Regions from separate parts of the Homo sapiens genome. Here region 1 is linked to region 2. Evidence: fine-mapped expression QTL. Tissue or cell type: monocytes after LPS. Region 2 holds a variant in brackets; the other region holds the start of a gene. All regions are shown on one strand. Distances are between the middles of the regions.

Evidence for each region. PIP is the estimated chance that this variant, and not a neighbour inherited with it, causes the effect.
Region 1: it holds the start of KLHL8, and the variant in region 2 is fine-mapped to the expression of KLHL8 in monocytes after LPS (Quach 2016, PIP 0.95).

The regions. Positions count from the first base shown.
Region 1 is chr4:87,217,171-87,225,316 of GRCh38, forward strand. KLHL8 (kelch like family member 8) reads right to left here and starts at 3,448. Exons shown (of 10, transcript NM_020803.5): 1 at 3,248-3,448. RefSeq lists an enhancer at 2,450-3,062 and silencers at 2,568-2,837, 3,178-3,667.
Region 2 is chr4:86,785,300-86,793,299 of GRCh38, forward strand. It overlaps PTPN13 (protein tyrosine phosphatase non-receptor type 13), which reads left to right. Exons shown (of 48, transcript NM_080683.3): 39 at 1-69; 40 at 549-637. Among named protein-coding and RNA genes, the nearest start is that of SLC10A6, 60 kb to the right of the region's middle. The variant CT/C (reference allele first, on the strand shown) is at 4,543.

The DNA.
Region 1 (8,146 bases), 430 kb after region 2:
AACAAAAATTAATTTATTTAAAATGCTCAACTCCCTCTTGTTTCTTTGGCTAATATAAACCATTTTGTTCAGAAAAAAAAAAAAGACATAGTCAAGTGAATTTTAGCGACTGAAAACAACATTTTGTTATTTTATGAAACATTTATCCTCCCTCATCTCTTGCTTTTTTTGGGGGTGGGGGGAAATAGGGTCTCACTCTGTCACCCAGGCTGGAGTGCAGTGATGCAATCATGGCTCACTGCAGCCTTGACCTCCCTGGACTCAGGTGATCCTCCCACCTCAGTCTCCCGAGTAGCTGGGACCACAGGTGCACACCACCACATCTGGGTAATTTTTGTTCGTTTGTTTGTTTTTTTGTAGACACAGGGTTTCGCCGTGTTGTTCAGGCTGGTCTGGAACTCCTGGGATCAAGCAATTGGCCTGCTTTGGCTTCTGAAAGTGCTAGGATTACAAGCATGAGCCACCGAGCCTGGCCTCTTTTTTTTTTTTTTTTTTGGAATATAGAGAAAGGTCTCACTTTGTTGCCCAGGATGGTCTCAAACTCCTGGGCTCAAGCAATCCTCCTGCCTTGACCTCCCAAATTGCAGTTACAGGTGTGAGCTACCATGTGGGGCCCTTTAGTTCTTAATATACAAAAATAAATGTGACTCTTGGGAATTCCAATATAAGTAACCAAAAATTTAAACATTCAATTTATAAAACACAAAAACTATCTGAAATTAATGTTTAAGATGTCTGCAATAGTCTCTTTAATCTTTTTAAAATGACAATATCCATTTCAGTTCTCTACAACTCTCAAAAGTTCTTGATAAAAACAAAAGGGTTATTTGTCCAAACCCACAGAATGTTTAACACCAAGAATGAATCCTAACTGTGGATGTGATAACATGTCAATGTAGGTTCATCAATTGTAATATACGTACCACTCTGATGAGAGATTTTGGCTCTGTAGGGGTAGGCGATACATGGGAAATCTCTATACCTTCCACTCAGTTTTGTTGTGAACTTACAACTGCTCTAAAAAAGAAAATTCATTTTTCAAAATAGCAGGTGGGATCAAAATTTACCCAACTTTTTTTTTTTTTTTAGATGGAGTCTCGTTCTATTGCCAGGCTGGAGTGCAGCTGCGTGATCTCAGCTCACTTCCACCTCCCAGGTTCAAGTGATTCTCGTGTCTCTGGGACTACAGGCATGCGCCACCATGCCCAGCTAATTTTTTTGTATTTTTAGTAGAGATGGGGTTTCACCATGTTGGCCAGGATGGTCTTGATCTCCTGACCTCTTGATCCGCCCGCCTCGGCCTCCCAAAGTGTTGGGATTACAGGCGTGAGCCACCGCGCCCGGCCCTAACTTTCTTCTTAATGAATGAAGAAATACTGTTTTTAAAAAATAACCCTCACTGAATGTGAACTGAGTTTCTTGTCAAAAAATGTGCAATTATTACAGAATATATCATCTTAACCAATTATCAGTAATCTTATCAAATGCTAAAAGAATTGGCAGCTTTAAAAATTAAAATGATGAAGCTAAGTGCTCATATGTAGTTGAATAGAGTATCCTTAGACTTTTTTTTTCTTTTTTTGAGATGGAGTCTCACTCTGTCGCCCAGGCTGGAGCGCAGTGGCATGATCTCGGTTCACTGCAACCTCCGCCTCCCGGGTTCAAGCCATTCTCCTGTCTTAGCCTCTCGAGTAGCTGAGACTACAGGCATGTGCCACCACGCTCAGCTAATTTTTGTTATTTTTAGTAGAGATGGGGTTTCACCATGTTGGCCAGACTGGTCTCGAAAATCCTGACCTCAAGTGATCCCCCCGCCTCAATCTCCCAAAGTGCTGGGATTACAGGCGTGAGCCACTGCACCCGGCCCCTGAGACACCTCTTTTTATATTTAGGCTTACGCAATTTTGGTATCTTGAAAGCAATTTTTTTAAAAAGTGACGAAATAAATAAAGTGACTAAAAGTTTGAAGTTTGAACTGGGTCAGTTTGACAAATTAAGAAGGGTGCCAGGAGGAAGTCTGAGGAAAAGCAGCAGCTTAATGCCACCGCCATCTCCAAGCAGCGTTCCAGGCGCCAGCACTGTTAGCAGCAGTCCTCTGCGTACCCAAGAGTACCGCAGGGCCAGAACACGAGAAAGATGCGCGAAGAGGATTTCCTTCTAGAGAGAGAATAAAGAACACCAAGAGTCCAACAATTACCATCTTGTATAGGAGAAAAACAATGCAAAGGAAAAAACGTGCAACCAGCAGATAAAATACTTATGTCAACCCAGGTTCTAAGGACCTTTTCCCAAAGTATCCCTCTAAACTGGTAACATTAGCTTAGGGCAGAGTCAAGAAGAAAGTTATGCCATTAACACAGATGAAAATACTGAACGTTTTCTATGAAAAGTCACCCGATTAAACACTGCCAAGAGGGAAAAACAGTGCAAGTCCAGTAAAGCACGAGACACGTAGAAAATTCAAGCTATGTAGCCAAATCGCTCTCTCTGAAGAAAACAGCAAGCCAACTGAACCCAGCACGGAGTGGAAGGCGTAAAGAGCTGTCATCGTGGCGGTAACAACTCCACCGGGCGGCTGAGCGTCTAGAAAGAGGCTGCGGTTCCTGGTTCCACATCAGGAGGCACTCTCCACAAGGTCTACACCGCCGCTCCCGGGAAGGCACCTCCAGGGCGGCCAGCAAGCCCCCCGAGTGGGGACAGGCAGTGCCTTCCTCGCCTCGTCCCCGCGCGGCGTGGCCCGGAGGTGGCCCACTCGCCCCGCCCCCGCAGGCCGCGGCTCCAGGGGGCGTCCGGCCGCCCTCCCGGGGCCCCGAACCCGCGCCAGCCGCACCGCGCCTGCCCTCTTCCTGGACCCCGCGAAGCACCTGCCTGGGCCCCTCTTCGAAAGACTGGGAGGAAGGAGTCAAGGAGCTGCCGGGGAGGCTGACAGAGCCAGAGGCTGGAGCTCCCCTACGGGAGCCGGGAGCATAACCCTGCTCCTCCCGCCAATGGGGGCGACAAAAGCCGTGGAAGGTTGCTCAGGGGCTGGATCTCCTGCTGTCCGGGCCCCAAGCCCTCTCAGCTGTGGAGTTTCGGTTGGTGCACGAGGGCTCGAATTTCCTCCGCACACCGGAGACCCAAGACGGGACGGTGTTGCGACTTGGGGGCTGGGGTGAGGGAGGGCTCGGCGCGAGCGGACGGCACCGCACAAAGGAAGAGGGGACTGAGGGGAGACGAGGGGACTGAGGGGAGACGAGCGTCCCGTTACCTCGATCCTCGACCCTGTTCTTCCTGATGTCGCTAAGGTTGCAGCCACGTTACCACGCTCCCAGAGCCCCGGCCGCCCTCAGCGGAACCTCACCAACCCCGCGCGAGCACCCGGCGGACGCGCGCTCTCCTGCGCGGCCCCGCGGAGCCCCGGCGGGCGCTTGGCGTCCTCTCGCCTCAGCCCCCGCGAGCCGCGGCCTCTGGGGGCGGGGCGGGCTGGGCGGGGCTGCGCACGGCACTCTGGGAAGTGTGGTTCTCGGGACCTCCTCCCCGAGGCCACCCCCACGGCCTCGCCCCCGCGGCTCCCTAGTGGGCGGCCGGGTCTCAGGGACTGGGCAGTGTTGCCCGGCCTGGTGAAGGCGGACCAGGGCGTGGCGGAGGTCCCCATAACAAATCTTGAAATAAAACACTGCCTAAATACCTTTGAGCTTATCCATGCTTCACTTCTGCGGCGGTACAAAATTTAGTTTCTTTGTATGTCCATCAAATCCCCTTCTGCGGTTGTGAGTGTTCCTGGGATTTATGTCTTTGAAAAAAGAAGGGGAAAAAAAGGTTTGCATTTATTCCTGTGTCACTTTCACCACGTGCTCTACAAAGGATATACAAAACAACTGTGTTTATAAATACACACCCACAGTTTGTAAACCTAAGGAAGCAGTTGATTGACCTGAGAGCTCGCTGCTAAAAAGCAGTGCAAGTGGCCATGCGCGGTGGCTCACGCCTGTAATCCCAGCACTTTGGGAGGCTGAGGCGGGCGCATCACGAGGTCAGGAGTCGAGACCATCCTGGCCAACATGGTGAAACTCCGTCTGTACTAAAAATACAAAAATTAGCTGGGCGTGGTTGTGCGTGCCACCAATCCCAGCTATTCGCAAGGCTGAGGCAGGAGAATTGCTTGAACCCGGGAGTCGGAGGTTGCAGTGAGCTGAGATTGTGCCATTGCACTCCAGCCTGGCGACAGAGCAAGACTCCGTCTAAAAAAAAAAAAAAAAAAAAAAAAAGCAATGCAAGTAAAAGTGCTGTTGAAATGAATTAATTTTTCTATAATGTCAATAAAGTGGAATGTGTGAGGCGGGAGATCAAGAGACAGCAAAAAAACAAAATTTTTTTTAAAGAAAGATATTCCCCTAAATGTGTCTTTTGCCAGACTAACCTCAAACTTTCACAATCCTAGGAGTCTATTTCAGAATAAATTTAATCCTAGGACCTTTATTAATATTAACACATATGAACATTAGCACATTGATTTTAATAGAAATGAACATATATATATCTGTATATATATATGCATCTTCTATAAAAACCCCAAAGCAACTATTTGAATTTGAAATTTTATTTCTAGAAAAAAAATCACATTTTTTACATTGAAATATAAATAATTCTTAATATTTCAAAATATTCCTCTTTAGAGCATTAGTATTTTGCACATTTAATGCAAATACCTTTAGAAAAATAGAGTAAGATGAGTTTTAAAGAAGTATGCAGTGAAGAAAAGTCATAAAATGTGTCTGGAACGTGATGTAAAAATTGTTGGGACTCAGAAATCGATACCCCAAAATATGGTGCTTTGCCGCGCTGAACTGAGGAAGCAGCTTCAAGGTGTCTCTTACCTTCCCCATTACCCCTCCTGCCTCTCAATTCTTTGTCTCTCCCAAAGCACCAAATGATGTCGTTCTCTGAATTTCCCTTATCTGCCTAGAAACTAGACCTGCCAAAGAGGAACATATTTGCCTTACCTGATTTTTCATTTACTTAACTCATATTGGAGGAAGAAAGACTGAAGTCTGTCAACACTCTTGGACAGACTTTTGTCACAAACTATTGTCTGCTGTATGGGCTCAACACACTTTTTCCCAGGCCATTGTATGTTCCCCATTTTCCCCTAAAAGTCCTTTACTATACCTTAAGTTGCCACATTTCCCCAATCTCCCTTTCCCCCATAAAGAAGAGTATATAAACGTCTCTACCCCATTGAGTCATTGGGTAATCATTCTCCTGAAATCTCCCTGTGTTATGCACATTAAAATAAATTTTGTATGTCTTTTTTCCTATTAGTCTGCCATTTGACAGTTGATTTTTCAGTGAACCTTCCAAGGGAAAAGGGAAAGCTTCCCTGTATTCCCTTTATTAAACATAAAACACAATATGTATTTTATTTATTTATTTATTTTATTTTATTTTTTTGAGACGGAGTTTTGCTCTTGTCGCCCAGGCTGGAGTGCAGTGGCACAATCTCAGCTCACTGCAACCTCCACCTCCCAGGTTCAAGTGATTCTCCTGCCTCAGCCTCTGCAATAGTTGGGATTACAGGTGTCTGCCACCACGCCCGGCTAATTTTTGCATTTTTAGTAGAGACAGGGTTTTACCATGTTGGCCAGGCTGGTCTCGAACACCTGACCTCAAGTGATCCACTCGCCTCAGCCTCCCAAAGTGCTGGGATTACAGGCATGAGCCACCACGCCCGGCCTACAATATGTATTTAGTAAGACCATGTTAATAGAAATTTTGTTTTTTATAGCCTAAGCTTTTATTTTATTTTATTTATTTTATTTTAGAGACAGAGTCTCACTCTGTTGCCTAGGCTAGAGTGCAGTGAGTAGCACAATCATGGCTCACTGTAATCTTGATTTCCCCGGCTCAGGTGATTCTCCCACCTCCCGAGTAGCTGGAATTACAGGCCCACACCACCACACCTGGCTAATTTTTTTGTTTGTTTTGTTTTGTTTTGTTTTGTTTTGTAGAGATGGGGTTTCTCCATGTTGCCCAGGCTGGTTGTCAAACTCCTGGTCACAAGGGATCTGCCTTTCTTGGCCTCCCAAAGTGCTGGGATTACAGGTGTAAGCCACCATTCCTGGCCACTTTTCTTGTAATAAGGTGCACAGTAACTCCTAAAAATGCTTATAAAAAAGAGCACAACTGCTCTTTTTCTTCTGCTAATTGACATATACACAATAAACTATTTGTAGTTACTAACAAATCAAAGAAATATACACAATATTTCAATATTATTATCATCTATTTATCGAAGAACATTTTTTGAGCACCAGACACTGAGCTAGGAACTGGGAAATACGCAGTAGACAAAATTGAATAGTCCCTGCTCTCATGGAGACTTAGGATCTAGACTCGGAGACAGAGAATTAAACAGTGAATAATGAAAAGGTATGCATGGGGTGGCCAGGGGTTTGGGGAGCACCTAAGATACACCTAATCTAGAGCCTTTTATTGGGGCAGAGGAGTCTGGCAAAAATTCTGAAAATTAAATGAAATTTTTAAACCAAATAGCTATAAACTGGGGCAAAAAAAATCTTTCCCTAAAAAGTGATATATCTGTAACAATGCTCTCAAATAATTACTTAAAAATATATACAGTATCTTACAAAATAAGACATACCTCAACTAAAACAAAACACACATTTCCTAAATCGGACGAAATGTCTTCTTAGTTTTTACCCATTCCTCCCTAGCTCCATTTGAGAATAAGCAAGACTAGCCTATAATAAGTAAGGATCTAAGAAATTCCTTCCCTTCCCTCAAAGTCCGATAAATTAAAACTGGAAAGGATCTGATAGCTGTTTGTTCATTTTATGATTGTACTTTAGTCAGAAAAAAATTGCAATATTTTAACCCCAATCAACATTTGCATTTTTTTTTTTTAAATTTGAGATGGAGTCTCGCCTTGTTACCCAGGCTGGAGTGCAATGGCACGATCTTGGCTTACTGCAACCTCCGTCTCCCAGGTTCAAGTGATTCTCCTGCCTCAGCCTCCTGAGTAGCTGGGTTTCGGCCTCCCAAAGTGCTGGGATTACAAGCATGAGCCACCGCGCCGGCCAACATTTGCATTTTAAGTCTTTATCTTTAATCCTGGGATAAAAGGCTTTATAACCATCAAAAGAATTTCAGATGTGGGCTGGATATGGTGGCTCATTCCCTGGATGACAGAGCCAGACAATTTTTCTTTCTCTTAAAGGAGTCGGGGAGCAGGGAAAGAATTTCAGATGTGGCTTGCCGAGGGATTTGGAAAGATTAATGAAGAAGGTTATTTTATCTTCATTTGCTAGGGAGGCAAAGCTTGCAACCAGAGAGCAGGTCCCAGAAGAGTTGCTAAGGTTCTTTGTCTATGGAAACGTACTTAAAGAGCCTGAACACCGCCAGCAAGACCACTATCTTCCTGTCCAGGTCAGGGTTACTGGCTTGCAGTTACATTTCATCCCAATCCTTTGACTCCTATCCTGTCACCCTCCTACAAAACCAGCCTTTACTGTGGCACTTCAGCTTCCCTCAACAATCATTTCCCGCCTTTTATCCTAAGACACACATGTGGATGGCTATGTTTTCTGACCTTAGGCTGGTGGCTCAACTTGTGCTGTTTTAATAAATTAATGACAGTTCTTCCATCCACTACCATGCAATCAGCCTGACATAGGTATCTCTAAACCTTTGCTGACCATTTTCTGATATATTTCTCTGATATATATTGTTGTTTTGTTTTTGTTTTTATTTTGTTAAAGAGATGGATGGGGTGGAGTTTGGTGGGGTGCGGGGATGGGGGGATTTTGCTATGTTGCCACGGCTGGTCTTGAACTCCTGGCCTCGAGGGATCCTCCTGCCTTAGCTTCCCGCCTTAGCCTTCGGAGTGGCTGGGATTACAAGGCTCAAGTCACAGCACCCAGCATCCCTGAAATATTTAAAGTTCCCAATTTTTCTGTGGGTCTTTGTAATTGCTGTTCCTTCTACCCCTTTGCCTGGTGAACTCTTTCTAATCATCTAGTATTAACTTAGAAAACTTTTTAATTAGGAAACCTTTCTTGGTTACAGTCCCCCCTCTCCAGTTTTGGGTTACTGCCTCCTATATATGCTCATCTTACAACTTATTTTTGCCCCTAAAGTAGCACTTAGT
Region 2 (8,000 bases):
ATGTTGTGGATGAGGAAGCCCAGAATCTTTTAAACGAAAATAATGCAGCAGGATACTCCTGTGGTCCAGGTACGTGAACCAGATGAATAAATTGGTATACTATGGAGTACAAAAACGTCTCTAGGGAGCATTTTTTGAGTAAATATGTAATGCATTAGTTCTTCTTCTGTTCCTCATTCATGTGTAATATTTCAGAAACAAAACAGAATTTGTTATCTCCTATTTTTTTTATTTTCCATATTTGTAAGTGGGTTACCTTATTAGTGAGATCTCCAAATGTATCATTTATATCATGGCTTTTACTTCTAGTAGGGTTAGTCCAAACATTTTCCCCCAGCCATTCTCATTTTAATTTTAGTAGATAATTTTAACCAGAAATTTTATACCAAAATGTACTTGATCATTTCTTCCTAACTTTTCTAGTTAAAACATTGAAACTATTTATGGATATTGGTTTATACACTGCCTTCTTTTGCAGGCAAATGAAAACTTTTCTACTTCCTCAATAGTTTTATAAATTCCTCTTGGCCTATATATTCCTCTCTCAGGTACATTAAAGATGAATGGGAAGTTATCAGAAGAGAGAACAGAAGATACAGACTGCGATGGTTCACCTTTACCTGAGTATTTTACTGAGGTAACAATAATACCTAAACAACCTAGGATATGACAGCTTGTTACAATTATGGGTTTAACCCAGAAGGTGAAATAATCAGAGATTCTTTCCTGTTTTACTCAAAAATTAAATTTAGGAGGAAAACGGAGATTAATTTCATGTGTTACATTAAAGTGTCATCCTATCCTAGTGAAAGAATCATTACACAAATTTTCTCAAATTAAAAAAAATAGAAAAAAAAACAATTAGTTTTCAAAAATGTAATGCTAAACTTTATAAATTATTCTTTAAAACCTTAAAACTTAGGATCTTCTGGGATATTAGGCTAAGGAAAAGCATGAAATAGTAGATAAATTATATTTCAGGTTCTTCAAGCTCAGCATCACCCTATGTATACAAATCTGACCTTGCTTAATATTCTGGGATAATTCTCCTCATTATCCTTCTTAGTCTTCCTACTTCATATCTTCAAAATTATTAAAACTGTGCTGGTTTGAATGTTCTTACACTAGTTATCATGCATGCTTATACTTACACACAATCTCATCCATACATGACTGTTCATTAAATATTTACAAATAATGTGTATATATACAAGGAAGCTTACGGCTGATAAGTATGTATTTCTCAAGCTACAAGAATAATCATACAAATATTAGATATCTCAAAATGTGGCATTCGCTAGTGGTTTTTCTTAAGATGCTCTTTCATATAATCAGAATATTAATAATTACAGTAAAAATAGGCTCTTTAGAGAAGATTTTCTGAACATTTTAAGTCATGACTTTATCACATTTTTATTAATATTTAATAGTAATATTAAAATGCCCCTTAAAATGTATGTTGTAATGTCTTTTAACTAAGAAAATAAAAATCTTTAATTGCCATTTCAGAAATGTGATGTAGGCCGGGCGCGTTGGCTCATGGCGGTAATCCCAGCACTTTTGGAAGGCCGAGGAGGGCAGATCACTTGAGGTCAGGAGTTCAAGACCAGCCTGGCCAACATGGTGAAACCCTGTCTCTGCCAAAAATATAAAAAATTAGCCAGATGTGGTGGCGCACACCTGTATTCCCAGCCCCTCGGGAGGCTGAGGCAGGAGAATCACTTGACCCAGGAGACAGAGGTTGCATTGAGCGGAGATCATGCCGTTGCACTCCAGCCTGGGCAATGGAGCGAGACTCAGTCTCAAAAAAAAAAAAGTCATGTCACATGCTTTTTCTTTTAAAAAAGTAAGGAAAGCTTGTTAATATAGATTCTCATTTATACTGAGCTATGACTGTTTTATGGCAGAAAACTTCTTTCAAGTTATCTTTTTTTTATTATTTTCATTATGAAAATATTACATCCTTATTGTAAAAAAGTTTCCAACAGAATCTTCAAAACTGTTAAGTCCTAGCCGGGCATGGTGGCTCACGCCTGTAATCCCAGCACTCTGGGAGGCCAAGGTAGGCGGATCACCTGAGGTTGGGAGTTCAAGACCAGCCTGGCCAACATGGAGAAACCCCGTCTCTACTAAAAATACAAAATTAGCCGGGCAAGGTGGTACATGCCTGTAATCCCAGCTACTCGGGAGGCTGAGGCAGGAGAATCCTTTGAACCTGGCAGACGGAGGTTGCGGTGAGCCGAAATCACGCCATTGCCCTCCAGCCTGGGCAACAAGAGCGAGATTCTGTCTCAAAAAAAAAAAAAAGTCCCTTTTTAAAAACATATTTATCTTATTCATCTGAGGTAGCTATTGTTAAAAATTTTGATTTCTACCTTTCCACTGTGCATATCAAAACATAAATATTTGTATACATACATAATTTTTTAATATACGTTTTATCACATGGTTCTGAATTTGGTTTTCACTTAACAATCATTACCCTCTTTCCATGTGAGACGTATAAATTTGCCTCATACTTTTTAAAGCCTTCCTATCATTTTATTGTAAGGTTATACCATAATTTATTAAATTGGCCATCTGTTAATGAATTTTAGATTTCTTATCAATAAGAGGAAACAAATTATTAGGAACTATATAATTGTCTTGCCACTGGAGTACAGATAGATCCTGCAAATACATGCATTGAGAATACATTTTGGGCTAGATAAATTAGTGCTTCCTGAATAAATGGGACTTTTGCTTTAGAATCTGTTTTAAATAATGGTAAACAAAGCAAAGAAAATGAGGGAACAAATTTAGGAAAGGAGTAACAGGGATCTTAGATTAAAACATTTAAAAATTTTATTTGTATCTAATTCTAGGAACACGTTTAAATCACTATGGCAATTATATTCATAAGCAGACAAATTTAAAATTTGCAAATATGACTAATCTCCCCTAGCTGAAAAGAAGACCAAGCTGGTATTCTGGAAAAGTTTTCTGTTTCATCTTGTATTTCTAGAATATTACCTACATTTTAGAACTGGCTAGTTTTAAAAATTATTTAGAACTTCTGACAATAATCTTTTGTAAGTTCTTGAAATCACCCTAAACAAATTGTATATTATTTACTGAATTGGTTCTAACAGTATATTCTGTAACTTTGAAAGTTTTATCATGTGGCAAAAGTTAAGATGCTAACCATTGGTATTACAAAAGTATAGGAATATCTTCTTACAGAAGAAAGATTATACCTCTGATAGCTATTTATACATTCATTGTATTTCTTATTCAGTATTGTAATTGTACTCTTTGGTACCTCTTAGTGAAGTACTTCAGGTCAATGCCTGTGTCTCATTTAAGAATGAAAGAATGAATGCTAATCGTATACATTACTATAAATTATTGTCTACAGTTTCAAAACCATTCAGCTATTGAACTCATCTGACTAATTTTGCTGGGGATAATAGGGTAAGAAGAGGTGTTAGGGTTTCTGTCCTAAATTTGCTTGTCCAGTCTAGTAGTCAGCTTGAGGGAAGTACACATGTAAATAAGTAAATAATTTTTAAAAAGCTATAGAAACATATTCTGTTAAATGTTTATATGGAGTTCAGTGGGACCTACAAAGAAGGGGGGAAATGGTAGGGGCTACACAGGAGTAGGTGGATAAAGTTATTAAAGCTTTCTAAAGAATTAGCATCTTAAAGGTATTTGATAGTTAAGCTAGGAAAGAGCATTCCATACATACCGTGGAGCTGCTTTAGCAGAGGAATGAAGGCATAGATGAGCCTGGAACATTCAGGACACTAAGTCATTGCGAGTAGGGTATCACAGGGTGTCTTGAAAGCTAAACCTAAAAAGATAGGCAAGGTATTAGTTCATGAAGTGACTTACATGCCATGCCAAGGAATTTGATCTTTCCACATCTCTTGCCACTGAAATGGATCAATATGCTTTCTAATTCTGGTTATTTTTTAATGGCTTTAATTTCTTCAAACATTGTCTTCTTATGTAGTGTTTTTAATTTCTTAAGCAAAAACAAGGCAAAAACTTTTAGTGACTCTCCATCACCTGAGGATAATCCTGCTTGACTGGTTGGATCTTAGGACTGGCTTTATGGGCATTCAACCAGTGCAATCACACAGAACCCTGTGCTTGTAAGAGCCTCCTACTCCTAATATGCTATAGTGCTGTGCTATCACCAACTTGAAGTTCTTAGTAAGTTTTTAACAAGAGATACCTTATTTGCATGTGACTCTTGGCACTACAAATTAGGTAGTTCGTCCTAGATCAAGGAGATGTCTCCTCTACTCTCAAGTTACTGGATCTGGATTCCTTGAGCACTAGGATTGTAAAATAACCTTCAAAGGGGCTGACCACGATAAAAAAAAATCTTAAATATATTCAGTGAGGCAGTACCACAGCTGCCTCCTCTTCCAAAGGTCCTTCAGTCCATAGTGACAAGAAACTGAAGGCCAATCTTCTTAACGCAACCCTCCCCCATACACAAGTGAACTTTACAAAAATAGTGGTAATTGGTTAATACAGGTATCACTGTAG[CT/C]TTTTTTTTTTTTTTTGAGTAACAGCAAGATTTATTGTGAAGGGCAAAAGAACAAAGCTTCCACACACAGTGTGGAAGGGGACCCAAGCAGGTTGCCCCACTGTAACTTATTTCTAATTGAGCTTTACCTCACCATTTTCATTTAATAATTGTGTTATTAAAATTTTCATATTTATAATAGCACTTAACTCTTATAAAAGGCTTTGTACTTTCTAAAATCATTATACACATACTATATTCTTAGACCAGGATTGTAATGGGGAATAAGAAATCCAAATGACTTTAGTTGGAAAAAAATTTTAATCCAGACTAAAATGAGCAGCTTCTCGAAAGAGATGAGTTTCCTTTTAGTTGACAGTGGATTAAAACCTTTTTTCTTCTACTGTAGAACTTCTACATTTACATCAACTAAATTGAAATTATTATCAGGGTAATTTAATTATGGTACTTTTTAACTCTACAAAGTCTGTAACTGAAAGGTCATATTACAGGTGTCATTTTTATTAAATGGATGAAATAACCTATGTCACAGACATAAGTGTGTGTGGGCACACAGTGGTGAACAGATCGACATGATTCCTGCCTTGGTAGAGCTTAATGATGGAGAGGAAAGGAGAAAAAATCAAACACACAAATAGATATGTAATTACAAGTTGTGTTAAGGTCTGTGAAGTTTGTTTGTTGTTTTTAAGTGCCACACACACACACACACAAAAAGAATAACCAAGGAAACCTGCTTTAGATTGGGTGGATAGAAAACATCTTCAGGAGGAGAAGACACAATGCTGAATTTTTTAGTAAGGATTCACCCTTAGAAGGGCTTTGTGGTAGGAAGAGATGAGTGATTTTGAAGAACTGAAAGACCCATGAATTTGAAGCCACTGGGTAAAGGGGAGATTATAAAAGTAGACAGGGGCCAGATAATTCAGGGCCTTCAAGGGAATTTCCTATTTGTTAAGAAAATTTGTCCTGATAAAGATTCAATTGTATAATTTACCGACCATTTAAGAATACAATTTGGGGGTGGTCACTTCCAAAATGACCGAATAGGAACAGCTCCAGTCTGCCACTCCCAACGAAATCGACGCAGAAGACAGGTGATTTCTGCATTTCCAACTGAGGTGCCTGGTTCATCTCAATGGGACTCGTTGGACAGTGGGTGCAGCCTACAGAGGGTGGGCTGAAGCAGGGTGGGGCGTCGCCTCACACGGGAAGCACAAGGTGTCAGGGGATTTCCCTTTCCTAGCCAAGCAAAGCCATGACAGACTGTACCTGGAGAAATGGTATACCCCTGACCAAACACTGTGCTTTTCCCACAGTCCCAGCAACCAGCAGACCAGGAGATACTGTCCCATGTCTGGCTCAGCGGGTCCCAAGCCCACGGAGCCTTGCTCACTGCCAGCGCAGCAGTCTGAGATCAACCTGTGACACTGCAGCTTGACCAGTGGGGGGCATCCACCATTGCTGAGGCTTGAGTAGCTCACAGTGTAAACAAAGCGGCCGGGAAGCTTGAACAGGGCAGAGCCCACCGCAACTCAGCAAGGCCTACTGCCTCTCTAGATTCCACCTCTGGGGGCAGGGCAGAGCAGAACAAAAGGAAGCAGACAGCTTCTCCAGACTTAAATGTCCCTGTCTGACAACTCTGAAGAGAGCAATGGTTCTCCCAGCATGGCGTTCGAACTCTGAGAATGGACAGACTGCCTCCTCAAGTGGGTCCCTGATCCCCGTGTAGCCTGACTGGGAGACATCTCCCAGGAGGGGCCGACAGACACCTCAAACAGGCGGGTGCCCCTCTGGGATGAAGCTTCCAGAGGAAGCATCAGGCAGCAATATTTGCTGTTCTGCAGCCTCCGCTGGTGATACCCAGGCAAACAGGGTCTGGAGTGGACCTCCAGCAAACTCCAACAGACCTGCAGCTGAGGGGCCTGTTAGAAGGGAAACTAACAAACAGAAAGGAATAGCATCAACATCAACAAAAAGGACATCCACACCAAAACCCTATCTGTAGGTCACCAACATCTAAGACCAAAGGTAGATAAAACCACAAAGATGGGGAGAAACCAGAGCAGAAAAGCAGAAAATTCCAAAAACCAGAGTGCCTCTTCTCCTCCAAAGGATCGCAGCTCCTTGCCAGCAAGGGAACAAAACTGGACAGAGGATGAGTTTGACAAGTTGACAGAAATAGACTTCAGAAGGTCGGTAATAACAAACTTTCCCAGGCAAAAGGAGCATGTTCTAACAAGTCGCAAGAAAGCTAAAAACCTTGAAAAAAAGGTTAGATGAATGGCTAACTAGAATAAACAGTGTAGAGAAGACCTTAAATGACCTGATGAAGCTGAAAACCACAGCACGAGAACTTCATGACACATGCACAAGCTTCAATCGCCGATTCGATCAAGTAGAAGAAAGGATATCAGTGATTGAAGATCAAATTAATGAAATAAAGCAAGAAGACAAGATTAGAGAAAAAAGAGTGAAAAGAAATGAACAAATGCTCTTAGAAATATGGGACTGTGTGAAAAGACCAAATCTACATTTGATTGGTGTACCGGAAAGGACAGGCAGAATGGAACCAAGTTAGAAAACACTCTTCAGGATATTATCCAGGAGAACTTCACTAACCTAGCAAGGCAGGCCAACATTCAAATTCAGGAAATACAGAGAACACCACAAAGATACTCCTTGAAAAGAGCAACCCCAAGACACATAATTGTCAGATTCACCAAGGGTGCAATGAAGGAAAAAATGTTAAGTGTGCAGCCAGAGAGAAAGGTCAGGTTGCCCACAAAGGGAAGCCCATCAGAATAACAGCGATCTCTCAGCAGAAAGCCTACAAGCCAGAAGAGAGTGGAGGCCAATATTCAACATTCTTAAAGGAAAGAATGTTCAACTCAGAATCTCATATCCAGCCAAACTAAGCTTCATAAGTGAAGGAGAAATAAAATCCTTTGCAGACAAGCAAATGCTAACAGATTTTGTCACCACCAGGCCTGCCTAACAAGAACTCCTGAAGGAAGCACTAAACATGGAAAGGAACATCCAGTACCAGCCACTGCAAAAACATACCAAGTGGTAAAGACTATCGATGCTGTGAAGAAACTGCATCAATTAACAGGCAAAATAACGAGCTAACATCATAATGACAAGATCAAATTCACACATAACAATATTAACCGTAAGTGTGTATGGGCTAAATGCCCCAATTAAAAGACACAGACTGGCAATTGGATAAAGAGTCAAGACCCATTGGTGTGCTGTATTCAGGAGACCCATCTCATGTGCAATGACGTGCATAGGCTCAAAATAAAGGGATGGGGGAAGATCTACCAAGCCAATGGAAAGCAAAAAAAGCAGGGGTTGCAATCCTAGTCTCTGATAAAACAGACTTTAAACCAACAAAGATCAAAAAAGACAAGGCCACTATATAATGGTAAAGGTATCAAATCAACAGGAAGAA